Regions from separate parts of the Homo sapiens genome. Here region 2 is linked to region 1. The links come from fine-mapping of genetic effects on gene expression. Tissue or cell type: whole blood. Region 1 holds a variant in brackets; the other region holds the start of a gene. All regions are shown on one strand. Distances are between the middles of the regions.

Evidence for each region. PIP is the estimated chance that this variant, and not a neighbour inherited with it, causes the effect.
Region 2: IL1R1 starts here. The variant in region 1 is fine-mapped to the expression of IL1R1 in whole blood (TOPMed, PIP above 0.99).

The regions. Positions count from the first base shown.
Region 1 is chr2:102,026,062-102,031,257 of GRCh38, forward strand. IL1R2 (interleukin 1 receptor type 2) reads left to right here. Exons shown (of 9, transcript NM_004633.4): 8 at 50-192; 9 at 2,165-2,483. The coding sequence ends at 2,331. Among named protein-coding and RNA genes, the nearest start is that of IL1R2, 37 kb to the left of the region's middle. The variant G/A (reference allele first, on the strand shown) is at 2,367.
Region 2 is chr2:102,140,551-102,145,550 of GRCh38, forward strand. It overlaps IL1R1 (interleukin 1 receptor type 1), which reads left to right and starts at 2,196. Exons shown (of 12, transcript NM_000877.4): 1 at 2,196-2,470. RefSeq lists enhancers at 3,059-3,353, 3,119-3,413.

The DNA of each region.
Region 1 (5,196 bases):
AGCTTGCATTCGATACAATCATAATTAAGTGAATGTTTTTTTAACTCAGGGAATATTCAGAAAATAATGAGAACTACATTGAAGTGCCATTGATTTTTGATCCTGTCACAAGAGAGGATTTGCACATGGATTTTAAATGTGTTGTCCATAATACCCTGAGTTTTCAGACACTACGCACCACAGTCAAGGAAGGTATGTATGTATTTTGGGGAGCACTATAGGAGAATATAACATGTTGAATGTTCCATGGATACTAGACAAATCTACTTGTTCTCCAAATGATTCCATAGAAATTCCCTTGCATTGTCTGCTAGTGGAGAGCTGAAAAGAAACCTCCCATTTTTAAAGAGTTTTGGTAGGGTGGAGGCTGGACTTTGGGAGATTATACTCAAATGAAAAATTTAAATAGCAAGCTGATTTTTGGAAAATGGATGAAATGGTTCTACAGTAAACTTCGAAATACTCTGTCTGCATGTGGCTCTGCCTTGGGTCACTAATCAGCTGTCTTCGCATGGCCTCTAGAAGAGGGTGGATTGTTCTTTATCCTGAAGATGAGAAACTTCATCCTCTAAGAGCTGGGGATTGGGAGCTACCCAGGGTTCAGGGCAGCTTTAGGGTCAAAGTCATTATATGACCGGAAATAGGTACAAGGCTACAGCCAAATCAACCCAGTGTTCATTTAAGGACATTTAAAAAGAAGAAGAGGAAAACCCACATTATCATTTTTGATTAAATTGATTTCATATCAATGTTTAATTGTTGAGCAGGAGGGAGAGCTGCCTTGAATGTAGTCTCTGTTGACAGCCTGTAGCTAATGGCAGGCAAGCCAAAGTGATTCCCAGCATCTCAGTGATGGCTCGTGGACAATCTTACAGCAATAACATAAATACAAATTGCTCCAGGTCTCCATGTTTTGCTGGGGAGGCAGCCACAAACACAGTGTAAACTGGAAAGCCAATGATGTGTTCCAGCCTCAGGACAGGGAATGGCACCCAACTTTCCTCCAACTGTGCGCTGTGCACCACCAGCCTCACACTCACCTGAGCCACTGGTCACAAACACAGATCTCAGGACTTACTCCAGATCCACCCTGTCAAATATTCCTAGGGAGAGGCTGCAGCCTGTGACACAAAAAGCTCCTTTCACAGTGAAGTTTGAGAATGAGGGCACACATGTGAAGGGTGGCGTTTCAGATCATTTCCAGATGAGCAGGCTGGGAGAGATGGTGGTTGTACACATTTACCCACAAAAATCAGAATGTTCCCTCTCGGGGTCAGATTAGTGAGCCCAAGGAACCTGTGGTTTGTCTGGCCCTGATGCTGGGAACCTTTAAAATTTTCCATAACATGAGCCTTGTCCCTGCATGTGGCTGGCCGTGACTGATCCAGGGAACACAGGCTGTAAGTCTTTCACCAGGACTGAGAGGTGTATTCAAACAGCTGCCCAGAATATTACAGCTGAACTTATTTCTAATCTTTGTGGGGTTTTAAAATGTGAGAATCCTCTGGAGCAACAGGCTGAGGTCATGTCGATTCCTGGATGACTAAACAGACTGTGATAGATAATAGCTTAAAAATGCAGGATTCTAGTCTCATCAACAATGTGTCTGATAACACTCTGTTCTCACATTTGCTTTTTAACTTTTTATTCAGAGTCTCTTCCTGTATTTCCATAACACAGAGACGCCAAGGAGCAGAACATAAAATAGCTGGACCCAAGCAATCGTGTTGGCCCCTGCAGCTCCATTATTCAAAATTTATTTTCCTTTGCTACTTCCTTTGATCCTCATGACACCCATGCTCATTAGAAAAGGGCAGATTGTTCCTGGCTCTGTCACAGTTGGCCAACTGTGACATAAACAGACAGCATCTTAAACGCACAGTGTCCCACTGTTGGAACAAAGTTAAACCCTCAGCACTTGCCCACTTACCCTACGATGTTTCTAACAGATTTTGCCCTATCACGCTCGTTTCTCTAATGCCACAGACATCACTCTCAAATATCCTCCATGTTGGTGTGAGGGATGTGCTTTCTGAAAATCAATGCACATTTATCAAGAAAAACAAACTCCAATTTCTTTCTTATCTTGTACACCTGCATTGCCCTGTCCTCTTGTACAGTGAGAGACTGTTCAGCTCCTGATGTGACTCTGTTCTTCCCACAGCCTCCTCCACGTTCTCCTGGGGCATTGTGCTGGCCCCACTTTCACTGGCCTTCTTGGTTTTGGGGGGAATATGGATGCACAGACGGTGCAAACACAGAACTGGAAAAGCAGATGGTCTGACTGTGCTATGGCCTCATCATCAAGACTTTCAATCCTATCCCAAGTGAAATAAATGGAATGAAATAATTCAAACACAAACTCC[G/A]TACGTCTTCTCTTATGGAAGTGGCTGTGTCTTTTTGAGGGACTCTGTTCTTTGCCTCAGTTGTCTACCAAAGGTGCCACATTTATAGTGGCTTTGTAGTAAAGGACTAAAGTCTTACATTCTGTTTTTTTTTTCCCTAAAAATCAGTGACAACAGTAGATGTGCCTGTGAGTGGGTGTGAGTAGCTGTCTGCTACTTGTGACCTATTTAACAGAATGAGGTGCTCTTAGGCCTGCATGAGAGTGGAAAACATCTACATGAGTTTTGACATTCATTCAACAAAAACATATTATGAGTCTATTTTGACTAGACTCTATGGGAGATGTTGTACATACAGTGATGGTTAAGACATAGTTTGCCTTTCAGGAAGCTGGTTGTTCATTTTGAGACTGAAAAGAATAATTTAGTGCTAAAGCAGAAGAATCAGCAAGAATTGGTGAACTTTTTTGGAAAGGGCTATCCAAAAAATAGCAATTAAAAATACACACATTGGAATGTATTAGTGAACTGAGAATTAGACCCAACTTCATAACAACATGTCTGAAAATAGAAGGAAGGGCATTAAAAGAATTGTAGACAAACTGAATAAAATGTACCCAGAGCCTCTTTCATATCATATACCAAAAATAAAATCCAGATAGATAAATGAGTTCAATTAAAAAAAAAAAAACTCCAATGGCAGGAAAATCAGCACGGCTGGTGACTCCACCTTTCAGGTCTCTGTTCAAATGTGACCTTCCCAGAGGGAAGGTCCCCAGAGAGGACCTTCCTTCCTCTCTGTCCCCTCACCCTGCTTTGTACCATTGTAGCTTTTATCACCACCAGACCTTCCAGTATAGATTTGCTTGTTGATTTTCAATTTATGTTTCCCACCCAAATGGAAGACCCATGAGGTCAGAGAGATTATTTTGGTCCCAGCTGTATTTCCAGTACCTCAAAGCAGGCATTTAATGAATATTTGCAGAATAAATGAAGATGGGATGAACTCTCTCTTGTTCATTACCAAAAGACTTGCAAGAGTAAAGGTGAGTAGGCTTAATTACATTATAATTTCTGCACAACAAAATAACAAAAGCAAGGTTTAGACAAAATTGTGTCAGACAAGTTCAAGGAATGAGTAACTATCATGTGTAGAGTTATTCAAAGTCATAGAAAAGGCATGTGTCTTAGTCTTTTTGGGCTGCTACAACAAAATACCATAACTAGGGTGGCTTGTAAACAACAGAAATTTATTTCTCACAGTTTTGGAGGTTGAGAAGTCCAAGATCAAGGTGCGAGCAGATTTGGTGTCTGGTGAGGGCCCACTTCCTGGCTAATAGACGGCAGCCCTCCTGACTTAATCACCTCCCAAGGGCCACAACTCCTAATACCATTGTATTGGAGGTTAGGGTTTCAACATATGAATTTTGGGAGGACACAAACATTCAGTTTATAGTAGCATCATCACCCTACAGATGAAAAAATGTGAGTAGGGGATTGCAGAAGAGACACACATAAAGGAACTCATGGAAAAATGACACTTTCAGTAAGAACCAGGGGATGTAAATTAGAGCAAATTTGAGATACCAGTGCACTCACACACTATCAAGTGTTTAAAAGTTTTTATGAAACACTCTCACACTTTAATTCAATTTATAATTTGGTGCTGGGAAGAAGAAAGGCAACATGAGCCAAGTCAGTTGGGTGCTGGACCAGCTTGCATCTTCTTGCAAGAGCCCAGGATGTGCCTCTCTTCTTGGCTCTGTTCAGTGATGTCATGTTGGTAGCTTAAAATCTGTGGCCATTGTGGAGTCTTTACACCACAGAAATTGGCAGTTGCCACAAATCAGCACTCTCTTCCCCAGTACATAACAACAAGGTTTGAGAGATGCCCAGTGATACTACTCCTGGGAATTTAGCTTAGGAAATAATTTAATAAAATAAAATCATTAGAGATATAAAATAATTTAATAAAACTTATTACCCCAATGATGAAAAATTATGCAGCAATTATCAATTATAATGATCAATACTATAATGACCAAATTATCAAAATTGTAAGACTTAAATGTTTACAGTGTTAAGGAAATATTATACATTGTTTTGTACAATTTTTATGGTTACAATATTGACATTTGTTTGCATCTAGACAAGGAGAAAACTTAAAAACTTGGACTTTGAAGGCAGACTTTGTGAGTTCAAGTTCAAGCACTGCCACATGGTGCCTCTGTGATCTTGGGCAAATCCTTTAATCTCAAAGTACATCAATTTTCTCATCTGAAAAATGGGGATAATCACTTAGTCCAAATTAACTTAGCTATTTAGCTATATTTTATATTTCCATTTTTCCTATTTTTCTATTTCAACTATAGTAACTGTTTAATAATCAAAAACATAGGAGGAATAGACAGAAATAAAAATTGTTGTACTTGGACTACGTGTTGACAAACCACAGCCTGTGGGCCAAATGCAGCCTGCCCTCTGTTTCTGTGGATTAAGAGTATTAGGAAACAGCCTTGCCTGTTTGTTTGCAGACTGTCTTTGGCCACTTTTGCTCTTTGAAGATAGAGTTGAGTAGTTGAGATGGCAAAACCTAGAATATTTACTATTTGGTCGTTTACAGGAAAAGTTTGCCAATGCCTGGTTTAGGTGAAGGCGGTTTTGAGCAGTTAACTTTTGACCCTCGCTTTTCTATTTTCCTGTTATCATCTCCTCTTTCCTTCTTCTGTTTTCTAAGCATTCAGGGAGGGAGAAGTACGGAGGGGCCGGCAGAGGCCTTTGAACACCTTATTAGATTTTAACCGGAAAGGAGAGGAGAGTGAGGTTTGAGAAGGAGGATTCGGTGAGGACG
Region 2 (5,000 bases), 110 kb after region 1:
TCACTAGCATACAATGTCAGTGTAAGCAGTAGGCTTTACACTAAAGCATGTTGATGTGCTCAGAGCATTTTTGTGGTGCTGAGACCAGAGCAGATAGGGATACAGGGATGACAGTCTCCACCTTACGGAAGCCTCCTACCCAGGGGATGGAGTGAGACAGGCAGGCACACCAGTTATCCAAGGAAAGGAAATAAAGGGAAGGAGAAAGTCAGTGAAAGTGGTCAGGATGGCTGAGTGAGGGAGAAGGTGACTTGAAGGTCCCAGATAGAACAGTGGTAATAAGGTGAGAAAGAGGAGGTCTTCCAATTCCATTTCTGTGTTGGGCGGGTGTTTGAGAGTCCCACCTGGGTCTAGAGGCCTGCATGTCTAGCAGGACACTGGGTAGGAGTGGCTGAACGGGGACAACACTTAAAAAAGACAAAAATTACGGATTTTATTTCTACATGGTTGCACAAATCAATTTCACTTTCTACTTGTAAACTGCTTAAAAACCTTCATTATGAAAATGGAAGGACGAATTTATGTTCACCATCATAGTGCTTCTGGGCTGGTTCCACAGCATGGAGCCAGGCCCACCTGCTGTAGCTTTCAGAACTGCCATTTGGACACGTGGTTGAAGCAGCCTTCAGTTGGAGGATTCACAGTAATGGCATCACTGTGGGAGCTTAGAGGAACAACTGCTTGCAACCCCAGCTGCACTGGAATTACCTGGGAGCTTTAAAAACACTGCCTTTTGGGCCTCAGCCCCAGAGACTCTGACGTGACTGATCTGAACACAGGAGTGTCATGTCCTCCGGTGATTCTGAGTGGAGTCAAGGCTGTGAGACCTTCTGCTGTATAAAGGAATATTGAGAGCTGGGATTGTTAAGGAATTCTCTTAATGCTACGTCACTGGCCTCTGATGTAAGCCTGCTTTCTCGAGGAAAAGGAACCATAAAAGCTTCTGGAAACAGATTGTTTAAGAATGAGAAATTGTCATCATGCCAGGTTGCAAGACAGCTTTTAGGGCAGATGAGCTTCTGCTGCTCATTCCTTCATCTTTTCCTCCAGCCTGGATTTGTCCGGGGGCAGCTGAGGCTCAGGTTACCTCAATTCTTGAGTTTCTGAAGAGGCATATCCAGGGGTGGGTTACGAGAACAAGAGCCTGCCCAGTCTGAAAGGGATGCAGGAAGGGGCGGTGTGTACTAGAAGGAAGGAAGCTATCATCATTTATTAAAACTCTTCTTGGAGGATGGCCCATGAAGACCTCCAAACAAGCTGGAGGGGCCAGTCACTTGCTGAAGACTAGCGAAGTGGAGGGGGAAAGCCCGAGGGAGCTGCAGACTCGACCACTGCGCCCTCCCCTCCTCTCCCTGCAAGGAGCCCAAGGTGTGATCCTGCCAGGCGTTCGTTCGCTGCATGACCTTGGCCATCCTTCCATTCCCCTGGGTGTGAATTCTCATTGGCAAAGTGAGCTGGTGGGCATAAGTGGGTTTTAAGTTTAAAAATTTAAAAACCCTGTCTGCCCCCAAGTGTGGTATCAAGATTTTATAGTATGACACTTAAATTGCTTTTTTCATCCGGGCGCGTAACAGCAACAATGAAACCAGCAGATAACGCGTGAGTAGTATCAGCTCTGGGCCTGGCACTATTTTATATGTATTAGCTCATTTTTTTTAAAAAACTGTTTTCAACCACTCCATGAGATGAGTGCTCTTATGATCCCTTTTTCACAGAAGAGGAAACGGAGGTACAAAGAAATTAGTGCACAAAGCCAGTCGGAGAGAGCCCCTGGCCAGGCACCAAGCTCCAGAGGTCGCTCTGGCGAGCGTTTGCTTCGGGATCTGATGCCCTGGAGTCGCCAACTCAATTCGCGGGTCGCAGCCAGGCTCCATGGGGGTAGTAGAGCCAGGTCGTAGTGGCTAGGTGAGTTGTCTCAACTAACTCTAGTGGAGCCGCCGCAGCCCTGGAGGAGCCGGGCCGCGACTCGAGAGCGCCCGGCAGCTCTCCAATGCTTTGGAACCGGCGGGACCCCTGCGGGCTACCCGGGGCAGGGCGGTGTCCGCAGGGGTCTGTCCAGCCGCGCCTGCTCCTCCGGGTGGAGAGTTGGGACACCCGGCCAGCTCGCTCGCAGCCCGCGGACTGGCCCAGCCGAGCCGTCTCCGCCCGTTCCCCGCCCCCGCAGCGGCGGGGCTAGAGCCAGAGCCGCGCCCGGCAGTTCCCGGCCGCGAGGGCGGGCGCAGCTTGTGGCCGGCGGCCGGAGCCGACTCGGAGCGCGCGGCGCCGGCCGGGAGGAGCCGGAGAGCGGCCGGGCCGGGCGGTGGGGGCGCCGGCCTGCCCCGCGCGCCCCAGGGAGCGGCAGGAATGTGACAATCGCGCGCCCGCGCACCGAAGCACTCCTCGCTCGGCTCCTAGGGCTCTCGCCCCTCTGAGCTGAGCCGGGTTCCGCCCGGGGCTGGGATCCCATCACCCTCCACGGCCGTCCGTCCAGGTACGGGGAAGCTGGAGCATCCGGGGACTAGGTAGGGGTGAGACGGACCACAGCCTTGACACCTTCGAGTCCCCCGCTCTGCAGGACGCCGTGAGCGTCCTCCCTAAGTTGCACTTGGTTGTCAGAGTGTGTTGTGTAAGAAGGGGATGGCGGTGAGGTCTGCGTGTGTGTGTTTCTTGTGTGGAGCAAGAGTTAACGTTGTTCAGGTCGTTTGAAGGAACTTGCCAGTTGTTCTGGAGGGGGGTTCTAGGTAGGTGTGTGACTTCCCGTGTGAATGGCTTTCAGGTTTTCTATCCGGCTACGTTCTACAGGTTCAGGAGCGTCCCTCTTAGAGGTTAGGCTCAGGACCGTCAGTCTCCTTAACAAGGTAAGGGCTGAGGCCTTAACCACACTGGGGAGGGTAACTTGTTGCCCCTCCAGATAAAGGATGGTGCTAGGGAATGTAGCTACAAGCAAGTAGGCGCTGAGAAGACACTCATTATTTACAACAGTCATGCCCAGCACTTTACAGTTTATAAGCCCTTGACAGCAACTGGTCTTTTACCCTCCCTACAGTCTTGTGAGGAGGGTGCTGTCATCACCCCTGTTTTACAGCGGGGGAAGCAGAAGTTTAGGTGACCAACTTGTTGGAGGATGATGTCCTGAAGGAGGGTAAGACCTCTGCATGCAGCCCCCCTCTGTCTTCCCTCCCACTCGTCCTGCCTGCCAGGGCTTTCTCCTCTGCACTGCCGGGAGGAAGGAAGGCCGCTGGGAAGGCACGCAGATGCTGGCTCCTGCTGGGCTGTCTCTCCACTGCCTTATCTTTGGGGCAGGGTAGCTTCTCAGATGGCCACATTCCTGTGATTTAGCTTTACATTCTAGGAACTGAGGCAAGGGACACCATGAACTTGGGCTCTTGAGGTCATGGAGCAAGGGTCCATTCGTCACGGGAATGTGATGGATGTCTCAGTCGCTGCGGTTTGGTGCCAGGCTTCTGGACATTGAATGTATGAAACAGAACTCCATGACTATTGATGAGCTGAGGAAAGCCAGAGGTGGCATGGGGACGTTCACTGTCCTTTTTGCCATCCAGTTTACCAAGCGGCTATTGGCATTGTTTTCTTTCTCAATCCCTTCTAATTTATTGTGTGATATCTCATTTGATATTTCATTTAATATTCTGTATTCATATCCGATGTTAACGTTTATGCTAGACAGAAAGGTAGAGCCTTTGAGAATGGGGTTTGCTGGGGCAGGGGTGTGGAACTCTGATTTATTTTCAGTCTCTGGCTAGCTGCCAAGCTGCTGTGTGTGAAGCGTCTCCTGCACCCGTCCACTCTCATGTGGCCTCCATGCTGTTCAGGAAAGGATATTTGATCTGAATTCTCACATGACCTTGGCAGGCCCAGAGCAGCACCCCCATTTCTAATAGGCCCTGCTTGTATGTCATAATGTGACATCAAGTTTTTTTTTTATGGTTCTGAAACCTGTGACATCTTTTGAGTCAACCTCTCACCATTGTTGAAACACTGCTTAATAGTAGATTCACTAATTTATTAAAGATTTATTGACTATCTACTATGTGCCAGGCACTGTGGTGAGTGGTGGGGAGACAGCGGTGAATACGACAAGTGAAAACCTCTGTCCCCTTATGGACATGAGTCTTCTTGGTAAGACATAGGATGTCAGCAGTCTCTCTTCAAAAGGGGGGTCTTTGAAATCCGCCCCTTTGTACAAGGGTGTGGATGCACTGGCTACCTAGAGGACACCACTCAGCAGCCCCAATGGAGAGGACGAGGAGATGATGGGCACAGATGTAGCTCTGTGGTTCCCTAGAGAATCGCAGGGCTGCTATTCTCCAAGTTTGTGGTGTCCCTTGCCTCAGTTCCTAGGATGTGGAGCTCTAGGAGGTGGAGCTACACTCTGTGGCTTGGCCATGCACAGGGACCAGGGCAGATGGAAACCCTGTGGCTGGGATGCATCAGTGCGAGCTGAGTGTCCACCTGCAAGCTGGGACATTATGGAGAAGACATCTCAGTAATAAGAGAGGCAAAGCTGGACAATTGCGGTGAAACTACCATAGCATAGTGGGTGGAGAAGTACAGAGATCCTTATATTCTTATGCTACATAATGGATATACTAGGTTCTTGCCATTTTAAAAGAAGTTGTCAGGGGCACCTGTGGCTCACCTGCCATGGCACAGCTCCAGGATGCTACCCATCTGTTGCCGTGAATGGGTGCTTGGTTTGCATTTTCTTCTTCTTGAGGTTGTGAGGTGGGCTGGTGGCACAAGACAAGGATCTGCACTGTCAGCAGCCTTTTTCTCCTCTGGTTGTCTGCTGTGGGTCCAGGAAATGCTGCTGGAGCCTCCCGGCCATGCCTAGTGCAGGGAGCATGTGGGAAGCCCTGGCCCCGAGTTATCTCACCAGGTACTGAAAGGGGCTGGAGCTCTTTAAGGTCCCAGTCGCCTGCATGTTGGATTCTGTGCTGTCTCCTCTTCATGCACATCCAGGAGCTCACACATGGCGGCACGATGGAGACACCTATCAC